Linked DNA regions of Homo sapiens: region 2 is linked to region 1. Evidence: fine-mapped expression QTL. A gene starts in region 1. The other region holds a variant in brackets. All regions are shown on one strand. Distances are from middle to middle.

Region 1 (16,389 bases):
CTAAAAAGATCTAGGAAGTAAACAAAGAAATCAGAAATTGGGTAATTTGATGAGTAACCTCATATTTGGTTACATGGACTCTAGATTCGGGATGAGATCTACTTTCTTGTTTAGTCAGGGCACTCTTAGATCCTGGCTGAGAAGTAGATTATACAAACTCTGATGACAATCCTTCTCTTAGTATTTGTCTGTGTGCCAGCATTCAGATGTGGGATCTCCAGAGTTTTAAATGCTACTGCACTGCTGCCATCATTCAAATCATCCAGCAAGGGTTATCCACTAAAAAGAACTGGAAAATCTGGCTGGGTGCGTTGGCTCATGCCTGTAATCCCAGCACTTTGGGAAGCCAAGGCAGGCAGATCACTTGAGGTCAGGAGTTCGAGACCAGCCTAACCAACATGGTGAAACCCCGTCTCTACTAAAAATACAAAAAAAAAAAAAAAAAAATCAGCTAGGCATGGTGGCGAGCGCCTGTAGTCCCAGCTACTTGGGAGGCTGAGGCATGAGAATCGCTTGAACCCAGGAGGTGGAGGTTGCAGTGAGCCAAGATCATGCCATGCACTTCAGCCTGGGTGACAGAGCGAGACTCTGTCTCAAAAAAAAAAAAAAAAACTGACATGCAGGTTGAAACAGCTGCCACCAGAAACTGGATGTGAAACAACTGTTAACAGACAATTGATATGAAATGATGACCTCTCAAATACTGGTGAATATCTAGATTGACATACTGATGGCTTTTCCTTCAGCTTGGGCTGAAGAATGACCACAAGGAGAAATTGAGAACTCAAACCATCTTCCCTCATACTGAGTCTGGACACAGAGAGCCCAGCTATACCTTAGTGTCTGTATTAAGATGACTTTGTGCTACGCCTCTGCTTCATGAGCATGTCTTTATTTTTCTAGGCATCTCCTACCCAGGCAAATGTTGATTGTTCATTACAGGATTTTCCCAAAGACCTGTCAATTCTTCAATTTGGGCTCTAAGATTCTTTGAATGCCTCACCTCAAAATCCTGGCCATGCTGTTTATTGTGGACTATTATGTTGTGATTCTCACCCAGTCTCATTCCAGCTCTCACTTTGAAAGACCTGCCTTCAATCAAATTTCCAATTCTCAGTAAGTTCCGGCCTTCCTTCCCCTCTGTAAGATACTGCCAAAGCTTTGCCTGCTATAAGCAATAGATCGGTTTTGTCTTATCAACAGGTTGTGGGGTGTTAGGGAGCCAGCTTTGGACAATAACTTAGATAAATGTGTTTTGTTTTTATTTTATTTTATTTTTGAGACAGAGTCTCACTCTGTCACCCAGGCTGGAGTGCAGTGGTAAGATCTTGGCTCACTGCAGCCTCTACCTCCCAGGTTCAAGCAGTTCTCCTGCCTCAGCCTCCTGAGTAGCTGGGATTACAGGTGTATGCCACCTTGCCTGACTAATTTTTGTATTTTTAGTAGAGACAGGGTTTCACCATGTTGGCCAGGCTGGTCTCAAACTCCTGACCTCAAGTGATTCGCCCACCTTGGCCTCCCAAAGTGCTGGGATTACAGGTGTGTGCCACCATGCCTGGCCTTGTATTTTGTTTTAAAAAGAAAAACACAAAATACTAAATACTAAGTATATTACTAAATATAATATACTAAGTATAAAATACTAAAAATATAAAAATTAGCCAAGCGTGGTAGTGCTCGCCTGTAGTCCCAGCTACTCGGGAGGCTGAGACAGGAGAATTGCTTGAACCCGGGAGGCGGAGGTTGCAGTGAGCCAAGATGTGCCACTGACTCCAGCCTGGGTGACAGAGCGAGACTCTGTCAAAAAAAAAAAAAAATTGTGGACTAAAGAGAAAAGACTGTAAAAATATAGAAAGAAAAAGGGAGTGATAAATTATGGCTGGGATTGTTGGAAATGCTTCACAAAGAACTGATGTTTATGAAGGAGACTAGAAGACGCCATCCCAAAATATGCCACTTCGGCATAAAGATTATTTCAAGCTGAAGGCAATTAGATATATGTCGCTCCTCTGCCCTTTTGGACTAAAAGCAGGACATATATTTCCATTTGGAAGGGGTCTCCCTCTCCTATACTTGGAAGATAACTACTCCAGAGACAACTCTTAGCACCTGAGAAGACTCTTACCTGCTTAACAAACCTTACTGAATAACACTTATTTACCACACGTTTCCTAGTCACCTTCCATAACTTACCCAGAAGCCCCAAAACGCTTTTCCTTTGTCAAGCTTCTTCTCCACACTCTATCACCCTTTAAGATGATATATACCTCTAAGATAGTATATAAGCCCCAAATTCTAACCACCTCCTTGAGTCATCTTCTTTGTGAACTCTCATTTGTACATATGTAATTCAATCCTTTTTTCCCCTCTTGTTGATCTGTCTTTTGTCAGTTTGATTTACAGAGCCTGTAGTCACTGAACCTAGGAAGGTAGAGGAAAAAAATTCTCCTCTCCAACATTTACTCTGAAGTTTTTTTCAAATAAGAAAATTTTTTAATCAAACATGAGACTAATGGAAAGAACTCACATATCAATATGGGGGAGGACACAAAGACCGTTAAGCAAAACTTATGAACAGGTAAGTTACTAATGGGGAAATGCAATTAGGAAACGGCGGAAAATGCAGTTTTACTAGTTATCAAAGGAAATTTAAAATAAGTCAATAATGGGATTTCCTGTCTTGTTTATAGTATTACGTTTTTAAAATTTTTTATCCAGGACTAATGAGACTTGTTAAAATGCATATTTATTACTGGTCGCAATATAAATTGTAAAGCAACTCTTTATGCAGTTTGGCAACATGTAACAAGAGCTTTAAAATACTTTCTTTTTTCTTTTCTTTTTTTTCTTTCTTTCTTTTTTTTTTTTTGGTTTTGAGACAGAGTCTTGCTCTGTCGCCCAGTCTGGAGGGCAGTGGTGCAATCTGGGCTCACTGCAACCTCAACCTCCCAGATTCAAGAGATTCTTGTGCCTCAGCCTCCCGAGCAGCTGGGATTACAGGTGTGTGCCACCACACCTGCCTAATTATTGTATTTTTAGCAGAGAAGGGGTTTTGCCATGTTGGCCAGGCTGGTCTCAAACTCCTGACCTTAATTAATCCGCCTGCCTCGGCCTCCCAAAATGCTGGGATTACAGGCGTAAGCCACCATGCCCAGCCTAAAAATACTTTCTGATCTGTTAATTCCACCTGTAGGAGTCAACCCAAGCCCAAGAATCTTCAATGCAACATTATTTCTATTATAAAAATGGGAAATAACCTAAATATTCAGTAATAGAATAATGAATTAACCTGTGATTTATCTACTATGTGGAATATTTTACAGCTCAATTAAAAATAATTACCATGAAGTCTTTAATACATACTTAGGGGCTACTCTGAATCTTGAAGGATGAACAGGAGTTTGCAAGAGAAGAAGTGGGTAGAGAAATGGAGGGGGTGATTGTGGTAGCAAGTTAGGAGGATTCCAGGCAGAGGAAACAGGGGATTGAGGGGCCCCAGCAGAAATGCCAGGGAGTCTGGGGCATAGGCGTCCAAGGCAGAGCTGCGTCCCGGGTGTGTTCTGGTGTGGGAGGCAGGAGGAGAGGGGTACACGCCCACAGGGAGCTGGGTTGAAATCTGGAGGGTAAGGGTGTGATAATGGAGCATGTTTGCTGGGGCAAGGTCTACATCAAAGGGTCACACTAGCAACATGGAAGAAGGTGATGTGGGGAGGGTGACACTGCTCTGCAGCTGCTACAAGGAAGGTCTTGTGAGCATACTGGCTGTGATTGCTTCACTTATTTTAAAGGCAAAAAGAGGCACCAAACATGGGTCTGAAGCCATCATTAATAATCTCCATGTCTTTTTTTTTTTTTTTTTGAGAGTCCCTCTCTGCCGCCCAGGCTGGAGTGCAATGGCACCATCTAGGCTCACTGCAACCTCCGCCTCCCAGGTTCAAGCGATTCTCTCACCTCTGCCTCCCAAGTAGCTAGGACTACAGGCATGCACCACCAAGCCTGGCTAATTTTTGTATTTTTAGTAGAGACAGGGTTTCACCATGTTGACCAGGCTAGTCTTGAACTATTGACCTTAAGTGATCTCCCCACCTCAGCCTCCCAAAGTGCTGGGATTACAGTCATGAGCCACTGTGCCCGGCCATGTCCATGTCTTTGAGACTCGGTTTTAAATGCTGAGGTTTCTGCCAGGACTGATGAGATAACTGGCATAGGTGCATTGAAAAGTCTTGCGGCCAGGCACGGAGGCTCACACCTGTAATCCCAGCACTTTGGGAGGCTGAGGCGGGTGGATCACGAGGTATGAGTTTGAGACCAGCCTGGCCAAGATGGTGAAACCCGGTCTCTACTAAAAATACAAAAAATTAGCTGGGCGTGGTGGCAGGCACCTGTAATCCCAGCTACCTGGGAGGCTGAGGCAGGAGAATCACTTGAACTTGGGAGGCAGAGGTTGCAGTGAGCTGAGATCACATCACTGTACTCTAGCCTGGGCAACAGAGCAAGACTCCATCTCAAAAAAAAAAAAAAAAAAGAAAAGAAAAGAAAAGAATAGTCTTGTGTGCTATTTGCGGGAGTGAGCTAAGAGAACCTGTCCTGTATTTATCATAGAGCAGGTTTCCTTAGCCCACTCCTGCCCCAACCTCTTTCTTCTTCTCACTCCCTGTGGAAAAATAGTCTTTGATAAGACAACGTAAAGAAAGACTATTTTTGCATAATTTATCCAGGGTAGGAAGCTAGTCAGTGTTAGCCAGTGAGGTATGATTTGTCTTACAAATGCTCCAGCGCAATGCTCTGGAAGGCAGTAGCCCCCTGTTGCAAAAGGGACGGAGCAAAACAAATATTATCACAGCCATGACCCCTAAGAGAGCTCTAGGACTGAGTTCAGTGCTCAGAAAGGGCAGAGAAGCAGAGATCAAGGCAAGGGATCATGGAGAAGGGTTCCCTGGGGTCCCATAAAGATCAGCTCTATGTTGCTTGAAAGGACTGAATAGGAACGTCATTGTTTGCATCCTCTTCTGAGCTCTCTCTGTGTCCTCAGTCAGCTAATACAATGGTTTTCATTGTGGTAATGAACTGTACCAAGCATACTTCCCAGCACTGTAGATATAATTTGGTGTTACAATTTTTTTTCTGAGCTGTAATTCCTGCTGTAATTTAGTTCTCCAACTGAACGAAATTCACATGGAATGTGGAAAACAAGCCAGAATTTGCCCTTCAATCTTCCCCAGACCTCTTCAACACAGAAAATAAGCTGTTTTTTTCTCTTTCATAATCAGTTTTCAACAGACTCCACATAATGCATAATTTAGGAACTGGAAAGGCAGCTGTCTTGCTAGGAAGGCCTCCAAGCCCAGCACACGCTCTCCTAAATGTAACAGGCCTCCTCCTATGTAGCACCTGACTCGGTCAGAGAATTCACAGTGCAAAACACAGGCCGAGGAGAGGCTGCGGCAGCCCTCCAGTCCCGTGATCTCAACAGTTCAGTGCACTTACCAAATGATACAGGAGGAGGGAGAGTTCTCATCCTTCTTTTCAAGGAACACAGTAACAAACTGTAGCTATTCTGAGAAAAGAACATTGTATTCTTAAACTTTTATTCCCTCCTGGTAGAGTATAAAGGGAAGGATGAGAATATCAGGTCCCGTCGCAGGTGACTCCAGAGGAGATTTAAAATGGAAACCTTCATGGGGCTGGGTTTCAGTTAATTCAATATATTCCCAATGTTTAACTTTACTGCACCCCTTCACCACTTAGATCTGTGAAGTGAAAATTCTGACCAATTTCCTGTGTTCTATGGGAAAGGGAAAACGGCAGCGGCAACGTGGAATATTTCAGTAGGAAAGGGTTTGTGTTGTAGGCAAAATGGTCTTCCATTTCAGTCCTACTAAGGACTACTGCTCACAGGGGAGTCCCGCACAGCACAGCCCTGCAGCAGAGGCAGAGGGAGGCCAGGCTGGGTGCGGAAGGGACGGCATCTGGATGACTACGAGGGGAGTGGGGTGTGGAGAACCAGCCTGAGCATCCTACAGGCAGTGGTCACTACGGGAGCACCGTGGCCCGACCCCCGGGAGGAAGGTTTCTCGTCTGGCCACCCTGGGGCATAGAACTTTCTCACATTTGCTCCTTCATCTTTGGATTGAGATAAAGAGTGGATGAGGCAGGCAGGTGGGGTAGGAAGAAGGGACAGTGGCTGAGGCAAGTTCCGGGATAGGGGCCAGGAAGGGCTGTTGAGATGCCATGGCTGCACCCCCTGCCAGCCTCTGCCCAGCTCTTCCTTGCCTCCTGCTCCTGGGTCTCTCCCCTTGTAACACAGCGGCCTCACTGAAGCTCAGGCTCCCGACAACCAGACAGCAGCGGGTCACAGGAGCGGAAAGGGCAGATGAAGTGGCTCCTGGGGCCAGCTCCCTACTGGCCAGAGTGGGGCCAGGACAGGGCCCTCCCACAGGAGGGAGTGGAAAGGGCCCTCCCTCCCAGAATGGGGGAGGAAGGAGATCTCTTCCAACCCCCCAGAACCCCATCACTCCCCAAGATTCTGGTTTCTTGCCTACTAGTGTGGGGCGCAGGACCCAGCCCTGCCTGGGACGTGAAGGGGGAGAAAACAGCATCGCATCCATAATATTTTGTGACATGAAGATGCCCAGCCTGTGAGTGTGGCTTCTGCCCCTCTCCCCTGAACCCTCAGTCTCAACCAAGGGTTTTCTCTCCCGCCTATGGCTTCCTTGGGCTCTCCCACTTCTCCTGGAGCAAGTTGGCTCCCTCACCGGCTCACGGGAGAGCTGTGGTCACATTCCCAGTGGGAAGGTGATGGAGCACCCATTATGCCTACTACTTTTTGGAGGTTAAGAGTGTTCCTCCTAGAGTCCGGGGGCCTGGATGTGAATCTGGCCACACCACCCGCCAGAAGCCTGCACCGAGCTTCCCTGCCCTCTGTCTGGTGAATGTTCACTGCTTCCCAAGGCTCAGCTCAGAGTGTCACTAACCCTGGGAGTCTCCCCTGACACCGAGGGCTGAGCAGCACCTTCTCTGAGTGGTACTCTGCCCCCTCCCATGTTAAACACCTTGCCTCCCAGGAAGGCTCCATGCAGGGTGTTGAATGAGAGGGAAGGAGATGAAGGAGAATGTTGGATGGGTGGCTGGACTGTTGGGCTAAGCAGAGGGCACCCAGGCACTGCAGGCTCCCCAGAGACCCCACCACCCCATCTCACCTGTGTGTGGAGAGCCGCTCTTCACCCGCCCTTTCACTCCGCCTCGTGCTGTAAGAGACAGGATTGCTGACAAATGGCTGGCCTCTGGTGAGTCCCCCTCCCTGCAGACCCCCGGTCACTGTGGGACCCCTCAGCTGATTTGTGGCTGCCTCAAACTGGGACCCAGCTCCAATGATTTTACTCAGCAAATTATAGAGTCCCCTGCCTGTCACATTTGTCTGATACTGTCAGTCATGAGGTCAGAACATCCCCCACCCCCTGCCCTGCACAGAGACAGAGACAGATAGAAATCTGCTGAGGGGCTTGCTCGGAACAGGCAACCCTAACCGAGACAATAGGTGGCTGAGACGCCCCAGCAGGCTCTGAGGAGCATGCATCGGCCGTGACAGTCTCCAGTGCTGGCCTGAACACAGGTGCTGTGCACAGGTTGTCTTGAATCCTTCCAGTAGCCCTGCAAGGAGGTGATGACTACCCCCATCTCATGCGTGAGGATCAGAGAGGTTGAATAACCAGCCGAGGTCGCTCAGCGCACAGGGGACAGGCCCTGGACTCAAACCCAGCTCCTCCCTATGCCTCTGAACACCATATGTGCTTCCCCCATCCCCTGCTGCTGCCCAGGAACCCTGTGGGCGGGCCCCGCAGGATCAGGACGTGGACTCACCTTCCTCTTTCAGGCCCTTTACCTGGTGGCTCATGGTCAGCAGCACTGCTGGGGTCCTGCACAGGCTCACGCAGCGTGCTCCTGTATGCACGCCTTCAGCCTGGGCTGCTTTCCTGCCCTCATGGTGGCTGGCCTCCCTTCCTAGACCTGACAGCAGGCGGGGCTTCTTGGTTTGAGATTGAATGTGGAGGTGGGTGAAGTTTGGGGGAGAGAGACGGGTGAAGGAAGGCGACGAGTTCCCGGCCCATCAATCCGGCCACACACTCCTCTTCTCAGGTTTCCCTGCAAAGAGGCAGCATGGCCTCATGTTTCAGGCATCAGTTATACATGAGGGGCCCTGGAGGGGCCAGGAGCTGCAGGCTTATCTCCTGGCAATGATGCCGCTGGCACTCTAGCCAGAGGAGGTGTGAGGAGCATCCCAGGCCCTCTCCCACTATCTTGAGTCCCTGATTGGGACAAAGCACCAGGGAAATTCTAGAATGTTTGTTTAAGTTATTACTTGGGCTTCTGTTTAAAATGCAGATTCTGGCATGTGGTGGTTCACACCTGTAATCTCAGCACTTAGGAAGGCAGAGGCAGGAGGATTGCTTGAGCCCAAGAGCTCAAGACCAGCCTGTGCAACGTAGTGAGACCCCATCTCCACAAAAAGAAAAATAATAATAATAAATTTTTAAAAATAAAATGCATACTCCCAGGAGTGGCACTGGGCGTTGGAATCAGTCAGTCTGTGCCAGGCCCTGGGAGCCTGCACTGTGGATCCTGCTGCAGGCGTCCTGAGCCCACACAGATGAATGTTCCCGCTCAGCCCCCGCCCCCTCCCTCAGCAGCTTTTCCTCCCTGGCTTCAGGGAGGCACAGATTTGGCTGCTTTGAAAACCATCACTAAAGTGTCAGAGGGACCCTCTGGAAGGCAGTCATAAGGTCTCAGAGTGTGGAGTTCTTAATCTGGAGTCCCTGGAACCCCCAGAGCTGTGGATGGAATTCTGTGGGTTTGTGAATAGTGATGGAGAAAATACTACACTTTCACTTTTCCTAGCCTTAACTGCGATTTAGCATTTCCCTCAATCATGAATGTAAGCAAAGATGTGATTTTTGTCTCAGCAAAAGTCACAGTTATTTTTTTTCCCAATTAAACCACTGGGGATGTCTCAAAATATCTTACATGTTATCACAACTTCAAAATTATGATAGTTAGAGACCTGCCATGAAATCTTGTTATTTAATTAGGAAGCATATATTGTCATTATATGAAAGATATTTAAAGTGATTTTGATGCCTATTTCAGGATCATTGGTCTCCTTTGTAATCCTAGTGTTTTATTTTATGGATTTAATGTCTATGTTCTGAAAAGCGGTCTGTGGCTGGGCGTGGTGGTTCACGCCTGTAATCCCAGAATTTTGGGAGGCCAAGGCAGACGGATCACCTAGGGTTGGGAGTTCCGGACCAGTCTGGCCAACATGGTGAAACCCCATCTCTACTAAAAATGCAAAAATTAGCCGGGCGTGGTGGGATGTGTCTGTAGTCCCAGCTACTCAGGAGGCTGAGGCAGAATTGCTTGACCCAGGAGGTGGAGGTTGCAGTGAGCTGAGATTGCACCACTGCACTCCCTGGGTGATAGAGTGAGACTCTGTCTCAAAAATAAAAAAAAATATAAAAAGGGGTCTACGGACCTTACCAGGATGCCAAAGGATTCTATGACACAACAGAATAAAAAGCCTTCCCCAGGGCAAGTCTCCTGTGGGTGTCAAGGACAGACCTAGCCTCTGATCATGCCCATGTACTTTCTCAGGGGTCAGGAGTAGGAGTGCCTGTCCTCATGCAAGCTTGGCGAGGGAAGGGGCAAAGGAGCTACCTCTAAAATGCACGTGCAACGGTTCATCTCAAGCTTTGAAGCTTTTCTCTTTGTCCCACACCTTGATCTCCGACCCAACTGGTTCCTGCAGGGCCGCCCCAGTCCCCGGGGCATGAGGGCAGTGGGAGGATCTCAGTTGCATTCTCTGGCATCCATACTGCAGGACTGCAGCCGCAAATCCCTCTCCCCACCAGGGCCATGCCAGTGCAGGACCCCGGTCCATGTGAGAAGCAGCACGGGCAGCTGTGCAGCCACAGGACAGCGTGGCCCAGAGGACTGGTGAGTAAGGTTTCTGCTGGGGGTGCCCCAAGCGCTCTCCCCTGATGAGTGAGGACCCCCAGCAGCCCTTTACCCTGCTCTTTTTTTTTTTTTTTTTTTTTTTTGAGACAGCGTCTGGCTCTGTCGCCCAGGCTGGAGTGCAGTGGCGCGATCTCGGCTCACTGCAAGCTCCGCCTCCTGCCTTTACCCTGCTCTTGTTGTTCTCTGTTGCCAGAGGAGAAAGGCTTTCTACAACACCTTCATCTCCGGAGAGAAATTCCCTCCAGATAGGACTATCAAATTCCCTTGTACCTGACTGTCCACACAGTCGATAACTCCACTTTTCTCCTCACAGATAAAAATGAGCACCCACTGGGGTCAGAGTCAGTTCTCGGCTCTGGGGATTCATCAGCAAATGAAACAGAGACCCTTGTCCTCAGGGGCTGATGTGTTTTTGCTGTCTGGTGGCTGGGTTTAGCCCTTGGTGTCTGAAGGAGTGATCTAGGAATTGGCAGATTTCTTCTCTCTCACAACAAACCCTGCTTTCCACAATTATTTCTAAGGAATTCAAAAATCCAAGTTTGGAAGTCAGATACTGAACACAGAGTATTTTGCTTTTTTCTTTGCACGCCACCTAGATCAATTCCAATGCTTCCTGAGATGAATACACATTCAGGCAAGAGGGAGCAGGTCTCACATCAGAGAGTGTGAGAAAGAAAACGACAGTGATGTCTTAAAACTATTATCCTCGTGGCATGTGTGTTGCACACTGCTCTGTGCTAGGTCCTGCCTGGGGCACTCTTGCCCCAACCTCTCTATTTCTCACAACAGCCCGGTGAGACAGTGTTGTCACTCCCATGTGTCAGATGAAGAAAATGAAAAAACGCGGAGCCCTTGTGTCTCCTGGGCAGGTCTGTGACAAGAGATCAATTGAGTCTGGGTCTGGAAGCTGGGATATGTGGCTTTGACTTGGGCTGACCATTAAATCCCCAAGTGCCTTCTTGTGAAGGTCACTTCTGGGCTGTGGTTTCCTTGTTGTTCAGGGTTAGATTCCGTAGTGGACACTGCCAGTGATCTGCCCAGATTCCCTCTCAGAGCAAGTGCACCCATCCTCCAGGGCTAAGGCACATAGCGGACCCCTTCAACGGAGGAGAATTGCCTTTGGCCGAGCAGGGGCTGCTGAACCCTGAGGTAATCCCATCACCATCCCCGGATTAGCCTACAGCCACAGATGGATGAACAAAGAGGTATGACAGCCCGGCCTCTGTCAAAAATGGGAACAACTTATTGATGTCATTCACATCCCAGAGCTTCCTGTGAGATGAGCCAGAAGCTGGACTCCAGTGGGGTCTCTGCTCATCCCCTTCTCCTGCCCTGTCCTGCTTCTTGCCTCTTCTCCTGAGAGCACCCTCCACCCCCGCCTGCCCCGTCTCAGGCTCTGCTGTTAGGGAACCAGGCCTAATGTTGCCTTTTCTAGAAAGGCAGCTGCTCGTCCTCCTGCATAGGCTGGGGAGGGAACTGAGGGAGCTAGGCTGGTAGGGATGAAGGGCATGGGGAGGTGGGAGCAGGGATGCTGATGCTCACTTAGACCAAGGGGGAGACAAGGTCCAAGAGGAGAGTGGGACAGGCCTGAGCACCCCTAGGCTGGCCCATCTGCTTGGACATAGAATCCAAGGTGTATCTCTGAACCAAATGCAAGGATTCTATAACATGTCTGTCCTTCTAGCCTCCAATGACTATTAGGATTCGACTGCCTTTTCCCCAGTCTTCACTCACCCCCCGCCCGAGGGTTAATATTAAAAGCAGCAGAGCGGCCTACATAATTTGCAGGGCCCAGTGGAAAATGAAAATGTGGGGTCCCTTGTCCAAAAAGCAAGAAAAATGAACAGTTAAAGATACTAAAATACAAAGCCTTTCTCTTTCTACTATTTAACGTCATTCTGAGAAAACTCAAAATTTTAAATTATTTGCATGGATCCCACTGTTCATCTGTATATCGAGCAATAACAGGTTTCAGTGCAAGTATAAGAGTACTTAACTCCTATGTGGAATCACTGAAATGACACAATTTGTATTTTGTAGCTTGTATATGTGCAGGATTTCAGGCTTATCAGGACTGTAGAAATGCTGCACAAAGCCAACTCAATGGTTTTACTTCACGTCTTGGTATGTGCATATTCTACCAATGTTTCCTGCCTTTGGCTTACTGATGAGTGAAAAAGAACTGGGAAAAAAAAGGAATTATGGGTTTCTCTATCTTTTCCTTTTCTTCTGGGTCATTATTGTCAGCCTACGTGGTTGGCTAATCCAGGGAAGTAACTTGAATGAAAAAGAATAGGATAGGGTCCCTTAGTTGTCATGCTTCTTAGAACACCACTGCCTTCTTTTAGTGTTTGAAGCAAGTTCTGGATTAAATGGGAAGTGTAGCCCCTCTGGGCTGGAAGCATTCCTACATATTTAACCACAGATATTACACCCCTGCCTTGTACTGGCTTTGAGTCTTGCTAAACTCCCATGCGTCGTGGGCCCACTGGAATTATGTGCTCATGGGGCATCATATATGGGATACGCAAATAGGGCGGCATATGTTCCTATCTCCTCTGCTCATGTACGCACCCCATTGTCCCATCAGACTTCCCCCCCTCCTCCTTCTCCTTCTCTCCTCCTCCTCCTTCTCCTTCTTCCTTCTTCCTTCTTCTTCTTCACAGGCTCAGGCTATAATGCAATGGCATGAACATGGTTCACAGCAGCCTCAACATCCTGGACTCAAATCATCCTCCTGCTTCAGCCTCCCAAGTAGCTGGGGCCGGAAAAAAGCACCACTATGCCCAGCTAATTTTTTTTTTTTGTTGTTGTTTTTGAAACAGAGTTTTGCTCTGTCACCCAGACTGGAGTGCAGTGGCGTGATCCTGGCTCACTGCAACCTCTGCCTCCCAGGTTCAAGTGATTCTCTTGCCTCAGCCTCCTAAGTAGCTAGGATTACAGGAGTGTGCCACCATGCCTGGCTAATTTTGTATTTTTAATAGAGATGGGGTTTCACCATGTTGATCAGGCTGGTCTCAAACTCCTGACCTCAAGTGATCCATCCACCTTGGCCTCCCAAAGTGATAGGATTACAGGTGTGAGCCACTAAGCCCAGCCTTAATTTTTAATTTTTTAAAATTATTTTTTATTTTTGAGATAGAGTCTCACTCTGTCACCCAGGCTGGAATTCAGTGGCATGATCTCGGCTCACTGCAACTTCTGCCTCCCGGGTTCAAGCAATTCTCTTGCCTCAGCCTCCCAGGTAGCTGGGATTACAGGCGTGTGCCACCATGCCTGGCTAATTTTTGTATTTTTAGTAGAGATGGGGTTTCACCATGTTGGCCAGGCTAGTCTCGAACTCCTGGCCTCTAATGATCTGCCCACGTCGGCTTCCCAAAGTGATGTGATTACAGGCGTGAGCCACCACACCTGGCCCAATTAACTTTTTTTTTTTAGAGATGGGTCTCACCGTGTTGCCCAGGCTGATCGTGAACTCTTTAGCTTATGCAGTACTCCTGCCTCAGCCTCCCAAAGTGTTGGGATGACAGGCGTGAACCACCATGTCCAGCCCAAAAGATAAAATTCTTAAGAATTTCACTATAGGCTGGACGCGGTGGCTCACGCCTCTCATCCCAGCACTTTGGGAGGCCGAGGCAGGTGGATCACTAAAGGTCAAGAGTTCGAGACCAGCCTGGCCAAGATGGTGAAACCCCATCTCTACTAAAAATACAAAAATTAGCCGGGTGGATGTGCCTGTAATCCTAGCTACTCGGGAGGCTGAGGCAGGAGAATCCCTTGAACCCGGGAGATGGAGGTTGCAGTAAGCCAAGATCACGCCATTGCACTCCAGCCTGGGCGACAGAGCGAAACTCCGTCTCAAAAAAAAAAAAAGAATTTCACTTTCACTTTTTCAGCACAGTATTAGACCAAGTGCAGGGCGCTTCTGAGTGTGGAGCCATGAGCAGCCACGCGCAGGCTGCACACTCAGGAAGCCCACCCTTCAAGACAGCCACAGCTGAGAGTTACCTGTCACTGCCTTTCTGCCAGGAACTTGCCAACCCCTTTAAATGACTTATTGAATCATCACAACAGCCATTTGAGGCAGATTGTCTTATCTTTCTTTACAGATGAAAAAATGGAGGCTTAGATGTGATGTGTCCCAGCAGTCCCTGGAGACAGGATTCAGCCCTGTTGACTGTTCTTACTCCAGAGCCCAGGCTTTTATTCCCTACACTCTTCTGACCTCTTGGGAAAAACCTGGACCACACCATATCCTCCTTTCCAAAGGTCCCCGTGTTTGCCTCCTACCTGGGCACCGGGCTGCTGGCCCTGCCCTTCAGTTTCTCTCTTGCATGGCAGCTAAGGCAGCCCCCAGAGCAGAGGTCTGACTTCATCTCCCCTCTACTTAAAACCCTTCGCTGGGACTCCATGGCCTAGGGGTAAAACCCAGACTCTCTAATGTGCCATCCAAGGCCCCGGAGAGCTCCAACACCCTCCAGCCCCCTCTGCCTCTCTCTTTCAGTGCAGCTATTCCTACCCACTGATGTGACTTGCTCTCATTCGAGGTACTAGAACTTCTCTTTGTCTTTGCTCCCACTATCCCCCCTGCCTGAGGCACAACTATGAAGACTGCTGACTTCAGGACATGTGGCAGACCCCTGGGCACACTGCCCACCCAGCATTTTACAATATGACTTGGAATGATGTTTCCTAGCAGAGCGATAACCCTAGCAAACTGCCAGGTGGGGTGTGGTGTCTGAGCAGAGCACTCCAGCCTCTGGGAAGACTCCCTCTCTGCTCTGCCCTTGGTTTTTGCCTCATCAAGATTTGCCTTTTCTTCATGGTGGTCTTGACATGTCCGTAACTGGAAACCTCTTGATTTCACACATTTGCAACTTTTAAGAAAAAAAAAAAGTGACACAAAAATGTGTTTTTAACTTTTTGTGAAATATTCCTTTTCTTTTTCTTTATTCTTCTTAACACAATACTTTAGCTAATACTATTTGAGTAACATTTATTGGACATGCAACTCAAACATTATTCTGAAAATTAATAATATCAGAGTGTTGTGCCCTAATGTTATCAGGATAGTGAATGTCCCTATTGCTGGAGCTGAGGAGGGTGAACTCTGTGCTAATTCTCTTTCATGGATGTGGCTTGCTCAGAGAAAATGAAACCCCAGGACCCAATACGACAACAACAAAAATAACATGTGCAGTCTCCACCAAAAGTCACAGGGCGTTCAAATCCAGGGGTGCTTTTGTCCCCAAAGCCCTTATTTGGGGAAGCTTCTTGGGCCATCTTGTTAATTTATCTCTCCAATTAGAAGTATATACATATATATATATAATTAGCTGTGGGTATCTGCTTACAAAACATCCAGTGTTGCTCACAGAATGTTGTAAACCGGCACAATGGAGAGGATCCAGTTACGCCAGCTAACACCCTAGCTGGATAACGTGAGCTGGCGCTATCTCAAGGATGCTGCCCTCCACCGACGAACCCACACCAATGAGCTCAGTGCTGGGGTAGTTTGTGGCACAGGGTGGGAGAGAGGCCATAGGATTCTGGACGGTAGCGGTGTGTCCCTGAAAGCTTTGGGTTGTGTAATATGAACAGTGCTTCTAAGTTTGTTTGGTCAGAGTCTTGGTTCCTTGACCTTTCTTGATCAGCACTGAAGGTGGGGCAGAAGGGTCCTGTTTTCGAGAAACTGCTGAGGTTGTCTCTGCCATCTCAGACTCTTAGGCAGGAAGTTGGACCCATCCAGGTATCTGGGACCTGAGGGCCCCCCATTACTCCAAAGGCAGGGGAGGATTACTGCCAGATATAAGCCAGACAGACTAAGAGGCACGGTCTACACAACCCACAAGGAGAACTGCAGCCAGCTGGTGACTATGGGTCATAGTTTTTTTATTCGTCTGCTTCTCCCCCACCACCCCAGGAGGCAGAGTCAGGGAAAGAAAGTAGGGAGCCTAGATTCAGGGGCTCTGTTCCTTCTGCCCATACGGGATAAGGACAACTGGAATGCTCCTCAAAGCAAAAGTGTTAAACAAAGTCAACCCCCATTTTCAGATGTCGGCTGAAATCGGACACCCCATTTTTAGGTGTCAGCTGAAATCAGATGGGTGACAAGCCCCTCTTCACCCCACACTACCATAAGCAAGTTATTGAAGCTTTCTCTGCCTCCGTTTTTTCATCTGCTGGGTGGAGGTAATTCTGCTACAACTCCTGCAAGAGCCCTTTGGGGACTGAGTGAGATAATATGACCATAACCAGAACACCCCAAAGCCCTGAAGAGTTAGGAGAGCGCTCTGTGGGATTCCTGCTCATATCACTTTACTCCCAGCCTCAGTGCCTAGGCCTGCAGTGCGTCTGGGCCCCACTTTTGCCAGGCAC
Region 2 (16,389 bases), 89 kb before region 1:
AGAATGGATTTGGAGCACCTTAAAATCCTCAGACCCAGAGAACTGTCATTATTTGATTTATCCAGTGGTTGATACTACTCACAAGGCTATCTTTATTTGACCTGGCTCAAAGCCCAATCAGTGTGAACTTTTTCTCTGAGATTGGCAAAAGCAATCAGAGGCAATTGTTGAACATCACGGCTGTGAGAAGTGTTGCATAACAGTTGGGGCAAACAATAGGCTAACCAAAAAGTTTAAAAGGAGAACTGGGGAATGGGATGTCCAATGGGGGCTTTAAAACACTTTGAAATATTCCTGGGAATCTATAGAGAACTGTGTGCATGATGTGTAAGGCTCTGTGCCTGTCCAGGGCTGTTTATGTGTCCAAGAAAGACTTGAGAAGGCCCTGAGCTCTCACCTCTGGTAACCTTGAGTCTCTGAACAAGCAGTCAGTGACAGCTAAGGTAGAGTTGTAAACTGCCTGGTTGAATGTTGAAGGCATACCCCAATACATACACAGAGCCTGTTGGGAAATACTGGGAGTCTTACTGGTTCCAGACATGTAAGAAAATCTCTTTCCAGTCAGTAGGTGTCTACTAAGCTAACTGAGCACAGACTTTAGTGGCCACACACAACAAAGAAAACAGACTTTACATAATTAGTTCAGAAAAGTTATTAAACAACAATAACGACAACAATTATAACAACAAACAGCAACAACAACAAACCCATGGAAGGGAGGCGAACCTGATTTCCATGGCTGCCATATAATACTATTTAAGATATCCAGTTTTCAGCAAAAACTAGTAAGACATGGCTGGGTGCAGTGGCTCACGCCTGTAATCCCAGCACTTTGGGAGGCTGAGGCGGGTGAATCACAAAGTCAGGAGTTCGAGACCAGCCTGGCCAACATGGGGAAACCCCATTTCTACTAAAAATACAAAAAATTAGCTGGGCATAGTGGCGGGCGCCTGTAATCCCAGCTACTCGGGAGGCTGGGGCAGGAGAATTGCTTGAGCCCAGGAGGTGGAGGTTGCAGTGAGCCAAGATCTCGCCACTGCATTCCAGCCTGGGCAACAGAGTGAGACTCTGTAAAAAAACAAAAACAAAAACAAAAAACCCCAAAAATCTAGTAAGACATACAAAGAAAAAAGAAAGCCTGGCCCATACACAGGGGGAAAAGTAGTCAATAGAAACCATTCCTGAGGAAACCTTGATGCTGTATTTAAGAGACAAAGACTTTAAATCAGTTATGTTAAATATGATCAAAGAATATGATCAAAGAACGATACAAAACCATTTCTAAAGAACTGAAAGTATCAAAATGATGTCTCACCAAATAAAGAATATTAGCAAAAAGAAATAAATAAAATAACCAAATAGAAATTCTGGAGTTGAAATCTACAATAACTGAAATAATAAATTTTCTGGAGGTGCTCAACATATCTGAGATGACAGAAGAAAGAACCAGCCTGGCCAACATAGTGAAACCCATCTCTACTAAAAATACACAAATTAGCTAGGTGTGGTGGCACATGCCGGTAATCCCAGCTACTCGACAGGCTGAGGCAGGAGAATCGCTGGAACCTGGGAGGTGGAGGCTGCAGTGAGCTGAGATCATGCCACTGCACTCTAGCCTGGGTGACAGAGTGAGACACCATCTCGAAAAAAAAAAAAAAGAATCAATGAACTTGAAAATAGATCAGTTGAGATTATCCAGTCTGAGGAACAGAAAGAAAAAAGAATGAGGTAAAATAACACAGCCTATGGGACAACAGCAAATGTATCAACACATGCCTAATGGGAATCTGAGGAGGAGAGGAAAGACAGAAAGGGTCAGAAAGAATATTTGAATAAATAATGGCTATTTTTAATCAGATTTCATCCCCAAATATGATGAAAAAATATTAATTTACACAGGAAGCTCAACAAATTCCATGCAGGATAAACTCAAAGAGATCTAGTCCTAGACATATCATAGCAAATTGAAAAAAAAAACAGCCATAGTCAAAGAGAGAATCCAGAAAGAGAGAAACAAATAATCATATACAAGAAAGCCTCAGAAAGATTAACAGTCAATTGTTTTTTCATATAAACCATGGAGGCCAAATGGCAGTGGGATGACATATTTGAAAGATTGAAAGAGAAAGACTATCAACCAAAAATTCTAAATCCAGCAAAACTGTTCTTCAAGAATGAAGGAGAAATTAAGTCATTCCCAGATAAAAACCAAGAGAAGTAATCACTAGCAGACCTACTCTGTAAGAAATGCTAGAGGGAGCTCTTTAGGTTAAAACGAAAGGACACTAGACAGTAACTTGAATCTACATGAAGAAATAAAGAGCACTAGTAAAGGTAACTACATGGGTTAACATGAAAGCTAGTATCAATGTAGTCTTTGTAGCTCTTTTTTCTCCTGTCTTATTCAGTTGGCATAAAATGTATAAAGATGTAATTTGTGTGGCAGAAACAACCTGAAGGAGAGTGGAGGGAATGGAGTTGTACAGGGACAAGGTTTTTGTATACTATTATAATTAAGTTGGTATTAATTCAAAGTAGTTTGTTATATTAATTATAATCTCCAGGGCAATCACTGAGAAAATAACTAAAACAAAATATAGTTAGAGAAATGACGTGGGAACTAAAATTATGTACTAAAATATTTAACCCAAAAGAAAGCAGTAATAGAGGAATAAAATAACAAAAATACATAAGACATATAGAAAACAGCAGACATAAATGTTAACTTATTGGTAATTAAATGTAAATGAATCAAACACTCCATATAAAAAGCACAGATTGACAGAATGGATAAACACTATGCTTCAGCTATATGCTTTTCCAAAGAAGCACACTATATTTTATTTCATTTATTTATTTAGAGAGAAGGTCTCAGTCTGTCACCCAGGGTGGAATGCAGTGGTACAAACATGGTTCACTGCAGCCTCAACCTTTTCAGTTCAAGCAATCCTCCACCTTTGTCGCCTCCCAAGTAGCTGGAACTACAGGCATGTGCCACCACACTCAGTTAATTTTTAAAGTTTTTGTAGAGATGGGTCTTGCCATGTTGCCCAGGCTGATATCAAACTCCTGGGCTCAAGCAATCTTCCTGCCTCAGCCTCCCAAAGTGCTGGTATTACCAGCATGAGCCACCACACCCAGCCAAAAAATGCACACTTCAGATTTTTAAGGTAATAGTAGATTGAAAGTAAAAGGATGGGAAACACATTAAGACAAAAATTGTTAGAGACAAATAGGATTATTTTGTAATTGTAAAAGGGTCATTTCATCAAGAAAATGTAATAAGTAAAAACATATATGCACCTAACAACACAGCCTTAAAACATACGAAGCAAAAACAGAATTTAAGGGAGAGATAATGGACAATCCAATAATAATAGCTGGAAATTCAATGCTTTACTTTCAGTAATAGAAACAATTAGAAGGTCAACAAGAAAATAGTAGACTTGAACAACTCTAAAAGTTCTATCCAATGCAATCGACTCCTTTTCCTGAGCCTTGAATTTATCAAGGCTCAAGTTCAAGATTTATTGTCTTCTACAATCCTAATTCCTTCTTCTTCTAAATATTTTTTGGACTTATTATTTGTCATTATTTTTAAGTCTTACTGATTAGGTGTTTTAAGTTCAGTGTCAAAGCATATTTGAAAGTGGTTCCTTATTGTCTGCATTAGGGATCAGCAAACTTTTTCTGCAGAGGGCCAGGCAATAAATATTTTAGTCTTTCTAGACAATACATTCCTTATCACAACAAGTAAATTCTGTCTTTTTCTGTGAAAAACAGTCATAGATAATAAATAAATGAATGAGCATGAATATGTTCCAATAAAACTTTATTTAACAAAATCAAGTGTGGTCCGGATTTAGCTTGTGGACTACAGTTTGATGACCCCTGGTCTACACCAAAGGAAAAAGATTCTGGCTTAGATAGCCATTATACAGGCTGTTTACTGCATAAAAGGCACCTGACTAAGGGGGTGACTGCTGGCTGAAATCTATCCATATTCTGTTTGTCAAATGTGCCCCTTGGCATGGGCCTACCTCCGTCTGAAGGAGTGGGCACCTTTAAAAAATTTGCACAAGGTACTATATGGGCTAGTAATGGCCCTAAATTCACCACCACCTTTTGAGGTCACTTTTTTTTTTTTTTTTTTACTTCTGTAAGAAATCAATAATTAGAAAAGTTACTCCACTTTCCTAATTATTGATTTCTTATACCTATGTTACAATGACTTACATTCCCTGGTTGTTTTCTTCCTTATTTCATGAATATACTTATCTCAACTCTCCAAAAAAGCAGTACTGTGCTTAACTGAAAACATTAAAAGCACTCCCCACCCTGTAAATGCAGGAAAAATACAAAAATATATTTCATCACCAAATATTAATTAACTTGTTTTTCCCATGGAAGGTACTAATTAATCCTACAGAGAAAAAAAGAGATCTAAGAATTAAATAAAATATAACATTTTCATTGTTTACAAATGAGAAAATGACCTGGAAGATTCAAGAACTTTGGTTGAGTAAATATGATAAACAATACACTCATAGGGTGACTGTATTAGCCTGTTTTCTTTTTTTTGAGATGGAGTCTCACTCTGTCGCCCAGGCTGGAGTACAGTGGCGCGATCTCGGCTCACTGCAAGCTCCGCCTCCCGGGTTCACGCCATTCTCCTGCCTCAGCCTCCCGAGTAGCTGGGACCACAGGCGCCCGCCACCACGCCCGGCTAATTTTTTGTGTTTTTAGTAGAGACGGGGTTTCACCGTGTTAGCCAGGATGGTCTCGATCTCCTGACCTCGTGATCTGCCCGCCTCGGCCTCCCAAAGTGCTGGGATTACAGGCATGAGCCACTGTGCCCGGCCTTATTAGCCTGTTTTCATACTGCTATAAAGAACTACCCAAGACTGAGTAATTTATAAAGGAAAGAGATTTAATTGACTCACTGTTCAGCATGGCTGGTGAGGCCTCAGGAAACTTACAGGTGGAAGGTGAAGGGGAAGCAAGGCACCTTCTTCACAAAGTGGCGGGAAGGAGAAGTGCCGAGCAAAGTGGGAAGAGCCCCTTATAAAACCATCAGATCTTGTGAGAACTCACTCACTATCACAAGAACGGCACGGGGGGAACTGCCTCCATGAACCAATTACCTCCACTTGGCCCCGCCCTTGAAATGTGGGGATTATGGGGATTACAATTCAAGATGAAATGTGGATGGGGGCACAAAGCCTAACTATATCAGTGACTGAATACAAAATTTATATATAGAAAATAAATAACATTTACATAGAAAAACAAAAACTAGTTAGAAAGTATGATGAAAGAGCTATCCTAATTTATCATAACAAAAAGAGAAATGCAGAGGAATACATTTAATAAGAAATGTGCATGAAATTTATGAAGAAAACTTAAAAATATTGAGAGACATAAATGAAAAAATGATAAGGAATACAGTATTCTTGGATTGGAAAACTTAACAACATAGGTGTGCCAATTCTTTCTGGATTTTTTTTTTTTTTTTGAGACAGAGTCTCGCTCTTTTGCCCAGGCTGGAGTGCAGTGGCATGATCTTGGCTCACTGCAACCTCTGCCTCCTGGGTTCAAGCAATTCTCCTACCTCAGTCTCTCAAGTAGCTGGGATTACAGGCACACACCACCACAGCTGGCTTATTTTTGTATTTTTAGTAGACATGGGGTTTCACCATGCCGGCCAGGCTGGTCTCAAACTCCTGACCTCAGGTGATCTGCCCACCTCGGCCTCCCAAAGTATTGGGATTACAGGTGTGAGCCACCATGCTCGGCCTTCTTTCTGAATTCTAATAAAAATGATCACAGATTATTTTTGTTGTTGTTTTGGTGCTAGGGAGCCTGCCTCTGTGGAAAATCAAATGAAGAAAGAAAAGACTTCTTTTTCTGGTCTTGACTAAGGGACTTGTATTGGTCCAGCTCTCCAGAGAAAAACAACTGTAAATGCTGAGCAAAATTTACAAAACTGTAGTTTAAGACATGGGAGAGTGACAGGCAGACTAAAGGGACTTGATGCTTGAGAGAAGGGAAGCATGTGAGGTGAGCTCCACATTCCTCCAGGGTTTCTCCCTGAGAGTATTTTCCAATTTGTGACCCAGAAGCAGAGTCCAAGCAGAAAGTGGAAATCTTACAATGTGGAGAAGATGCAGGTCAGAGTTAATTACTGCCACAGTCTTTGGGACTTGAGGGGCAGAATCCCAGAGAAGAACAAATTGCAGATAAATAAGCCAAACTCTGTGTACAAATTGCCCTCAAATGATTGACCAATTCTTCAATTGCTTCAGGAAGCCCAGAAGAAAATGACACCAGAGAGGCTGAAGAGCAGAGCAGAGATTTCACAGTGGCTGTAGCAGTACTACTGGAGAAAAAGAATAAGCAAAGACGGAAGAATTGGGAAAAGAGAGAATGGGTTTTAAGCCCTGCCAAGGTGGAGGGTGGTGGAGGCCAAAAGAATGAGGGTCGTGATCAACTCAGTATACGACTGGAGGCTATATGAGTAAACAGCAAGCTGTTCTCATGAATGCAGGATGTTGGCAAGCTGACAACTATGTCGGCACCCAGAAGGAATGCTGAGGGCAGTCACGCCCCAGGCACAGTGTTTCTTGTGGTTAGGCACATCTGAGGCCTGTTAGCAATGATGTGAACCCGTGATCAATCAAACAGCTGACCAATCGTTACCTCCTCCTCCCTGCTCTTTCTACCCAATAAATACGAAGGGCTGTAGAAGCTCAGGGCTGCAGAAGCTCAGGGCTGCCTTTGCTCACTAGAAGCAAGGAGTCCCCTGACCCGTTCTTTAAAACAAATCCTTTTTTTCTTTGTCTTCATTTCTGTGTTCGTCCTACTTCGTTCAGTCCCGTAGTAACTGTCACAGGAGGGAATTGGTAAACACTGTAGGCTTTCAGTTGAGACCCCTAAAAGACTGTGCTCAATAGTAAGGATCACATTGTAGGAGTAAGGTCAGTGTCTTGGAAATAGGGCAAAACTGAAATAAATCAGCCCTGAGAAAGCCCAAAGCTAGCAATAGCAAACTATTTTCCAAAGATGGCCACAATACTATGACTCCTGTCTTACATGTGCTTCTAGAATCTTGTCATTGCCTCATCAAAAGATAAGTCTATATTTCTTTCTCTTGAACCTGGGTATCCCTTTGTGATTGCTTCAATAGAGTATGGCAGGAGTAAGTAAAGATGCCATGTATATCCACTGCATTCTCTTGGGATGCTTGCTCCTGAAACTCAGCCACCATACTATGAGGAAGCCCAAGCAGCTTGTGAGAAGGAAGTGAGGCCTCCAGTGCCAGCTGGCCAGTCATGTGAGTGACCATCTTGAAAGTGGGCCCTCCAGCCTCCAGCTGAGCTGACCCAGATGATGTTGAGTAGAGAGGAAAAGAATGATTCCTGCTAAGTCCTACCCAAATTGCAGATTCATTAATAAAATATTATTTTTCAGTTTTGGGGGTTGTTTCTTATGTAATAATAGATAGCTAAAACATCAAGTCTTGACAGGATTAAGTGATCTCCTAGTATTCCATTTGCCCTTCAGGAAAAAAAACCCATCCCTTTGGGGAAAGATAACATTATTCACAGCCTCTATAATTTTTCATCCACATGTCTGACATCTAGTAAAAATTACATGCCATGATAAAAGTAGGGCTGAGGATAAACAAGAGGAAAACAAATGACAACAAAAATACACCCAGGTGGTTCAGATATTGGAATATCAGACTGGGATTTTAAAAGTAATTATAACCACTATGTTCAAGAAAATAGAAAGCTGGAGAATTTCACCGGAGAGTTGGAATTTATAAATAACAGTCCAAAGGGAATACAACCACTTTGGAGAGCAATTCTGTAAGATCTAAAAAGATTGAAGAAACACATGCTGATGACCCACAATTCTGCTTCTAGATGTCTACCTTAGAGCAACTCTCAGAATTGTGCAAGGAGATATATACAAAATGTTGGCTGGAGCGCAGTTTGCAATAGCCGAAAAGTGGAAACAGCCTAACTATCCCTATGCAGAGGAATGGATAAACTGTGGCTTATTCATGAGATGGAACATAGTAGAGCCTTCAAACATGTGCTCATGTATCCGCATGGATAAATCCCCCAACATAATGTTGTTTGAGGAAAAGCATGTAATGTGAGTCATTCATGAAAAGGTTTAAAACTCCGGAAACAGTACTATACACACATGTGATTAAAAAGTACAAAATATGCATGGAAATAATTAAATCTAGTCTGTATAATAGTTACCTTTGGGGAGGGAGGAAGAAAGAAGGATTGAGTGGGGCTTGAAGTGCATCTGTAATGTTTTATTTCTATTACGAAGAAAGATAAACCTGAAGTAAATATTGCAAAATGTTAAC[A/G]TCTGTTGAATCTTGTGATCGTGTACATGGTTGTCTGTACTCATTTGTATGCTGGGAATATTTCATAATTTTTAAAAAAGCATGCCAAAATAAGATTTTTTTAAATAAAGAAAAAATGCTAACATTTTTACTAGCACATTTTTTGATGGCAACAATTCCAATCCAAGACTCTGGCTTCCTGCCTTTCTTCCCTAGTTCTTTCCTTGAGCATTTACTGTTTGCCTGCTATGCTCTAGGCATTAGGCTGGCACCGGGGATACAGAGATTTTCGAACTTGTTCTCTAATGGTTGTTGAGGGGGACAGTGATGAAGGAACCAGCTTGTTCCAGTGTATAAGCTGCTCCATCGAGTAGTGCTGTGGGCCCAGCCAGGATCAGGCCGAATCACCGTTCAGCTTCCTGATAGGCTCAGAGCCCACAGGACTTTGATATTTCTAGTGAGCATTTTAGTGGGAGTTGTTGCAGATACTGTCAGGGCTCACCCAAATTTTCAGTGTGCTCCAAAAGACTTGCACTTGCTGGTGCCCTCATCTCTGTTACCAGAAGCTTCCCTTCCCTCTTGGACCCCTCACTCACACCCCTTGAAGCCATTTTACCCATGAATGACGCTGGGAGCTGGTCTATAAATGCCTCGGATCCTTTGCCCTTAGGGAGGGCTGAGTCTGAGGCACACTGCCTCCCAGAATTCTCACAGTGATAACCATGCATTTTCCTTTCCCTTCCTTGTCTCAAGTCCTCACCCCCTCCCTAATAAAATACTTACACTTGAATCCTTGTCATGGATTCTGCTTCTGGGGAGTGCAGACTAAGAAGGCAAGATGAAAAGGACCTGCCAAGGAAGTCTCAAATTCAAGGAGAAGTTTCCGTGGGGTGGAGCCATGGGTCCTGGCTAACTTACAACATCAGCAGGATGGCTGGGATGATCAGGCCTGGATTGGCGAGGAAAGCAAAGATCTTGCCCAGGAAGGTTGGGAAATCGTTTTCAATGGTCTCTTGGAGGACATCGTACATTCTGTTTTTCCCACTGGAAAAAGGAGAGGACACAATATAACATGCTGCCATGTGCCTGTGGCATTCACAGCTGTGTCCATGGCCCCCCTACCCAGGTCCAGGGCTGCTGCCTGCCACTGCTTTCCTGGAAGAACCAGAGCTCTGCTCCAAATGAACTGCAAGTAAAAAATTCCCCCTGAGGGGCTGCCATTCTGGCTAGGGTGACAGCTGGGTCGGCACACGGCTCACCGGCTTTCTATCCTAAGTAACTTACAACCTCTTAGCCTTCACTGGTCTTTTGTGTCTGACACCTTCCTCAGCCAGAAAAAAATGGTTTTCCTCATGTATTCTAACTGGAGAAATTGTCTGTGTTTGTAGCTACCAGGCCAACATGGAGCTTCCTTTGGGCCTGGGAAACAGTTCTGCAGAAGCTGATGTGCTGGACAACCTGAGTGTCTCTCAGAAATACCTAGAATTAACCTTCAGATTTTAAGTCTAGGAGATATTGGATCACCTAGGACAGGCTCCTGGACAGTTCACAACTGTAATTTTTATTTTCTTCAAATACCTAAGAACCATTATGCAGATTTACTTCTACAAATGCTGGCCCAGAGACTCCTGGATGCTGCTGGCTCTTGGTTGATAATTTTGGTGCCAAGAGGTGGAATACGGGGTTTGAAATTCCTGGTTTAAATCCTTGATCCCCCATTTATCACTGGTGAGACACGTGGACAATTATTCTCTCTCTCTCTGTCTTTTTTTTTTTTTTGATGGAGTCTCACTCTGACACCCAGGCTTGAGTGCAGTGGCACAATTTCAGCTCACTGCAACCTCCACCCCCGGATTCAAGCAATTCTCCTGCCTCAGCCTTTCAAGTAACTGGGATTACAGGTGAGCGCCACCACGCCTGCCTAATTTTTTGTATTTTTAGTAGAGATGGTGTTTCACCATGTTGGCCAGGCTGCTCTCAAACTTCTGACCTCAAATGATCCGCCCACCTCAGCCTCCCAAAGTGCTGGGATTACAGGCGTGAACCACTGTGCCCGGCCTGACAATTATTCTCTTTCTGCTTGTATTCATATCATGCCCTGGTTCTCCCCACGAAAGCTGTGCTGTCTGATGTGGCTATTAAAAATAAAAATTAAGATGAAGTCAAATTTGAAATTCAGTTTCTTAGTTACACATTTCAAGTGCTTAATAGTCATATGATTAGTAGCTGCTGTGTTAGAAATGCAGATATGGAATGTTTTCATCATTACAGTAAGTTCTATTGGATGTTCAATATCTGCAGAAGTTCAATACCTTTGGGCAAGGTATTGAAAATTTCTCTGCCCCAGTTTCCCCATCTGTATAATGTAGTATAATAATACTATAGTATAATATGGTATTTTAAGTATAATAATTGTATTTATCTCAGAAGATTGTTTAGAGGATATAGATGAGAATTGATATAAAACATTGAGTGTAGTGCTGTTAAGTTATAAGCGCCCTTCAAAATTTTGCAGCTAAACATTTTCTGTGTAAAGTATAGATGAGGAGTTCACCGACAATGGCTCATGGACAAATTCAGCTTGTTACCTGTTTTCTTTTTCTTTCTTTTCTTTTCTTTCTTTCTTTTTTTTTTGAGACAGAGTCTCTCTCTGTCGTCCAGGCTGGAGTGCAGTGGTGCAATCTCAGCTCACTGCAACCTCTGCCTCTGGGTTTCAAGCAATTCTCCTGTCTCAGCCTCCAGAGTTTACACACAATGCCTGGTGGATTACAGGCAGGCACCACTACGCCCGGCTAATTTTTGTATTTTTAGTAGAGACGGGGTTTCGCCATGTTGGCCAGGCTGGTCTTGAACTCCTGACCTCAGGTGATCCACCTGCTTTGGCCTCCCAAAGTACTGGGATTACAGGTGTGAGCCACTGCGCCTAGTCTGTCACCTGTTTTCATATGGTCTGTGAGCTAAGAATCATTTTTACATTTTTAAGTAGTTGAAAGCAAGTCAAAACAGGAATACTATTTTGTGACATGTAAAAATTGAAGTATAAAATTAAAATTTTAGTGTCTGTAAATAAAGTATTATTGGAACACAGCCATGCTCACTCATTTTTTGTGCTATAATGACAGGGAAGAGCAGTTGTGTCAGAGACCATTTGTGGCCATCTCATTGCTTACAACTGTTGCCCAGCACACCACAAATTGCAATGACGCAGTTATAGCATGATGGCATTTCAAGTGCCAGGCACATCACTGTATGACAATGTTTCATTTATTATTATTATTATTTTTATTTCCAGTGCATACCCGCCATGTACAAATGAGAAAAGTTAAGTTTACGTGTTAGGCTTTTATGTGACAGTTGAATGTAGATTATTTTGTCGTTGAATTAGATGGTGTATCAGATTCTAGTGCCTGCTGTTTGTCACGCTGGTGGCTTAAAACAATACAAATTTAATATCTTACAGTTCTGGAGGCCAGAAGTCTGAAAGGGATTCACTGGGTTGAAACTAACCTGGGGCAGGCATAGGATAACAGTTATAAACTTTCCAATACCAAAAAGGAGAAAATGGAAGGAAGAAAGAATCACCAACCTCAAGCAATTTTGAAATCCAATCAGCCAAGCTCCATTAGGGGTTTTATTTTTTATTTTTTGAGACAGAGTCTTGCTCGTTGCCCAGTCTGGAGTGCAGTGGCATGATTTCGGCTCACTGCAACCTCTGCCTCCCGGGTTCAAGTGATTCTCCTGCCTCAGCCTTGCGAGTAGCTGGAATTATAGGCACTTGCCACCACGCCTGGCTAGTTTTTGTATTTTTAGTAGAGATGGGGTTTCTCCATGTTCAAAACCAACAGCACAGAATCTTTAAATCTCTGCCTGCTTCTATGGTCACATCACCTTCTATTTTTCTGTAGTCAAATCTCCCTCCCTCTCCTTCCTTTTTTTTTTTTTTTGTTGTTGTTGAGATGGAGTCTCACCCTGTTGCCCAGTCTGGAGTGTAGTGGCATGATCTTGGCTCACTGCAACCTCCACCTCCCGGGTTCAAGCGATTCTCCTGCCTCAGCCTCCCGAGTAGCTGGGATTACAGGCACGCACCACCACACCTGGCTAATTTTTTGTATCTTTAGTAGAAACGGGGTTTCACCATGTTGGCCAGGCTGGTCTTGAACTCCTGATCTCGTGATCTGCCCGCCTCAGCCTCCCAAAGTTGTGGGATTACAGGCGTGAGCCACTGCACCCGGCCTCCCTCCTTCTTATAAGAACACTTGTGACTTAGGGCCCACCTGGCTAATCCATGATGATATCCCCATCTCAAGATTCTAGGAACTAGAAAATGAGTTATTTACTCTCAAAAATAAAATGGTGGGACAGGCATAGGATAAAAGTTGTAAACACTCCATTACCAAAAGGGAGAAAATGGAAGGAAGAAAGGAATCACCAGTTCCAAGCAATTTTGAAATCCAATCAGCCAAGCTCCATTAAGTTTTAAAGTCCTGAGAATAATCCTCTGGGCTGCAGACTCTGCCCTACTGTGCCCATAGCTTTGCCCTTGTGGGTTCACAGTTCTGCCCTTGGAAGAACACTTCCACCCTTCCTTCTTCTTGAAGGATAGCACATGTCTCAGCTGAGTAAATTTTATCAGTCTGTTTCCCGCCACAGAATTCTGGGAGGCCAATGATCTGCCTTTATTTTGTCTTCTTTCTGTTTCTTTCAGTCCAAGTTGGTAATGTTTCCGCTGATATAATATTGTCAAAAACTGTGTGAGTTTTTCATGTATGTCATGAGAATGTACTCTGTTAAAGAAGAGAGTCCCACATGATCTTTTCTGGATAATCCTATTTCTATTCCTGACTTCTGATGTGATGGTTGAGGCGATGCATTAGTCACACGATTAGTCAGAGTTTTCTGTGTGAATGATATTCAGACCTTTTGATCTTTCAGAAACACTAGCAAAAGGTTATCCAGACTCACTCTTGGCTTTCTTTTTACAGCACATTCTCATGACAGTGAATCTAGTTTTAGCATATTTTGCAATCTAGATAAGGCTGAGAATTTCCAGAATCATCAAATCCTGGTACTTTCTTGTTTATCAGTTACTTACTCAACATACCTCTTTCCTTGCACATTTTCTATAAGCAGCATGAAGAAACCAGGCTGTACCTTCAATACTTTGCTTGGGAATCTCTTCAGCTAAATACCCAAGTTCTGTTTTTTTCTTCTCTTCTCTTTTCTTTTTTTCTTTTTTGAAGCAGAGCCTTGCTATGTTGCCCAGGCTGGAGTGCAGTGGTGCAATCATGGCTTATTGCAACTTCCACCTCCTGGGATCAAGCAATCCTCCCACCTCAGCCTCCCAAGTAGCTGGGACTACAGGCACGTACCACCATGCCTGGCTAGCCAAGTTCCTTTCTTATAAGTTCAGTTTTCCATACAACTGTAGGAGATGGTTCTTATCATAGTATAATTGTCCCTGCTGACCTCCTACCCAGTGACAGATGGGAAGCTGAGAAAAAGGGGGCTGGCATTTGCACCCAGGGCCCAGCCCTCCAAACCTTGCTTAGGAAGAAGCCAACAGAGGCTTCTTCCATTCGGTTCTCCTTTCAGCCTGGCTAAATCTTAGGCCATCTGCACTTCAGCACATTCCTTCTGTTCTAGACTGATCCCCTCCTTCTGTGTGAACACTGTTTTCCAGATCACACCCTGCTGGAACACTCCTGCTAACATCCCTGGGCTCCAACCATCACAGGCCTTTATCTAGTAAAGTCCTTTATGAACTGAGAAAGACCGGATCAGCATTTCTCAAAGTGTGTTTGTGCGGGACATGAGTGACTTTATTTTACATGCTAATCTGCCTTGTAACTTCTAACTAACCCTGAGTCTGAGAGTGCCTCCCACATGACTAGCAGATGTATTACTCTTTATGTAGGAACTCTTATTCCTACATAAAGTTTCCTCCAAAACAACCCTTGATGCTGCTGCAGAAATCACAGGCTGTGATGTTCAGAGCCACCTATACATTCCTTCCAGAGCACGCATACTTTCCCCAAGATAGAAGCCCTGGGCCTGGGGGATTGAGGTGTGGAGATCTACCTGTCTCACGGCTGCTTGTGACCATGCATCTGACTGTAAGTTACCCCTAATAAATCACCCAAAGCCGACAAACTGCATTTGTCTCCTTCCTCCTTTGGATTCTAGGCTCTTTGGGCATTTAGGGGCTGTTTTGCATATACGACCCTTTTACGGGACAGGGTTTCTCCTCATTGGCAGGCAGGGTTGGGACTAGAGTGAGGCGGGTGAGGCCCTGAGTGCACAATTTAAGGAAGTAATGCCCTCAGGGTTGCTCATGTGCAGTGTAGGGCGTCACTCACCTGCCTCACCCTATTTCCAGCCCTGGATGAGTGATCCATGCAGAAAGGGTTCTGTGGTCAATAAGGACGGAGACACTAGCTTACAGGTGTTACCTCATTGCATGATTCTTCAGAGCCTTTAACAAAGGAGTGTGCATTGAGCATTTCTAAGTGAGATAATGGCAGACAGAAGGGGCAGTACGTCCTAAACTGCTTTAACCACAGAACCTCTCTTTACGGAGTTGGCAGAGGGCTTTGTTTTCAGAAGGTCAGGCATTTGGAAAGAGAACAGTAGATGCACATTATCTCTTGATCTACCTCCTTACATAATTATTTGTCTTTTTATACAATATCTAGTCTCCCAACTAGCTTGACTTATGTATTGAACCCCCAGGCCAATGCTCTGGAGAGCAGAGAGCTCAGTTGAGGTCTGTCAAGAGTCCACTGCAGCTGCTTCACATTTAAACGGCACGTGTAAGTGTATGGTAATTCATCCTCAGAATATCCACCATTACTTATCCTATGGTAAAGTAATCCCAGGTAGTAAGTTATCCATGTGTTAAAAGGGTAGAACTGTGCTGTCGAATATGGTAGCCATTAGCCATGTGTGGTTATTTTAATTGAAATTAAGAACGAAATCCTGTCATTTGCAGCAACATGGATGGAACAGGAAGTCATTATGTTAAGTGAAATAAGCCAGGCACAGAAAGACAAATATTGCATTTTCTTACTCACATGTGGGAGCTAAAAAAGTGGATCTCATGGAGGTAGAGAGTAGAATGAGGTGATCAGAGGTTGGGAAGGATAGAGAGGAGTGGGGATGAAGTACGGTTGGTTAACTGGTACAAATATACAGTTAGATAGAGGGAAGAAGTCCCAGTGTTCCATAGCACAGCAGGGAGATGACAGTTAACAATAATTCATTGTATAATTTCAAAGTTCCCAACACAAAGAAAAGATAAATGTTTAGGCCAGGCACGGTGGCTCACGCCTGTAATCATAACACTTTGGGAGGCCGAGGCAAGTGGATTGTTTGAGGCCAGGAGTTCAAGGCCAGCCTGGGCAACATGGCAAAACCCCGTCTCTACTAAAAATACAAAAATTAGTTGGGCATTGTGGTGCATGCCTGTAGTCCCAGCTACTTGGGAGGTGGAGGCATGAGAATCGCTTGAACCTGGCAGGCAGAGGTTGCAGTAAGCTGAGATGGCACCACTGCACTCCAGCCTGGGTGACAGAGTGAGACTCTGTCTAAAAAGAATAAAAAATAAATGTTTGATGTGATGGATATCCCAGTTACCCTGATTTGATCATTATATATTGTATACATGTATCCAAATATCACATGTACCCCCAAATATGTACAACTATCAGTTAAAAATTAATAAATAAATGAGAAAAATACATGAGAAATTAATTTTCTCAGTTCCTCATTTCAAGCACTCAACGGCCACAGGTGGCTGGTGGCTACTGAAATGAACAGCGCAGACACAGAACGACCTAACATTTCCATCCTGGCAGAAAACCCTCTTAAATGGCATCGGTGATTCACCCAAAGTTCCATGGCCTTTTACAGGCTGGCATGAAACCAGAACTGGAATTCTGGGCCGAGGCCCTCTGAGCAGACTGCCTCGGGAGGGGAGGTGCTCCCGGGCAACTGAGACTCTGCACCTGAACGGCCCGCAGTCA

What was found. PIP is the estimated chance that this variant, and not a neighbour inherited with it, causes the effect.
Region 2: its variant is fine-mapped to the expression of TMC2 in lung (TOPMed, PIP above 0.99). The same link has a PIP of 0.9 or more in breast, esophagus mucosa, esophagus muscle, gastroesophageal junction, skeletal muscle and subcutaneous fat.

The regions. Positions count from the first base shown.
Region 1 is chr20:2,528,127-2,544,515 of GRCh38, reverse strand. TMC2 (transmembrane channel like 2) reads right to left here and starts at 7,943. Exons shown (of 20, transcript NM_080751.3): 1 at 7,861-7,943; 2 at 7,200-7,247. The coding sequence starts at 7,894. LOC105372504 (a long non-coding RNA gene) reads left to right here and starts at 904. Exons shown (of 3, transcript XR_937204.3): 1 at 904-1,116; 2 at 2,392-2,578; 3 at 9,906-9,988.
Region 2 is chr20:2,617,294-2,633,682 of GRCh38, reverse strand. TMC2 (transmembrane channel like 2) reads right to left here. Exons shown (of 20, transcript NM_080751.3): 16 at 16,372-16,389; 17 at 9,287-9,412. LOC105372505 (a long non-coding RNA gene) reads left to right here. Exons shown (of 5, transcript XR_007067502.1): 3 at 14,384-14,481; 4 at 15,098-15,177. Among named protein-coding and RNA genes, the nearest start is that of NOP56, 27 kb to the left of the region's middle. The variant A/G (reference allele first, on the strand shown) is at 8,390.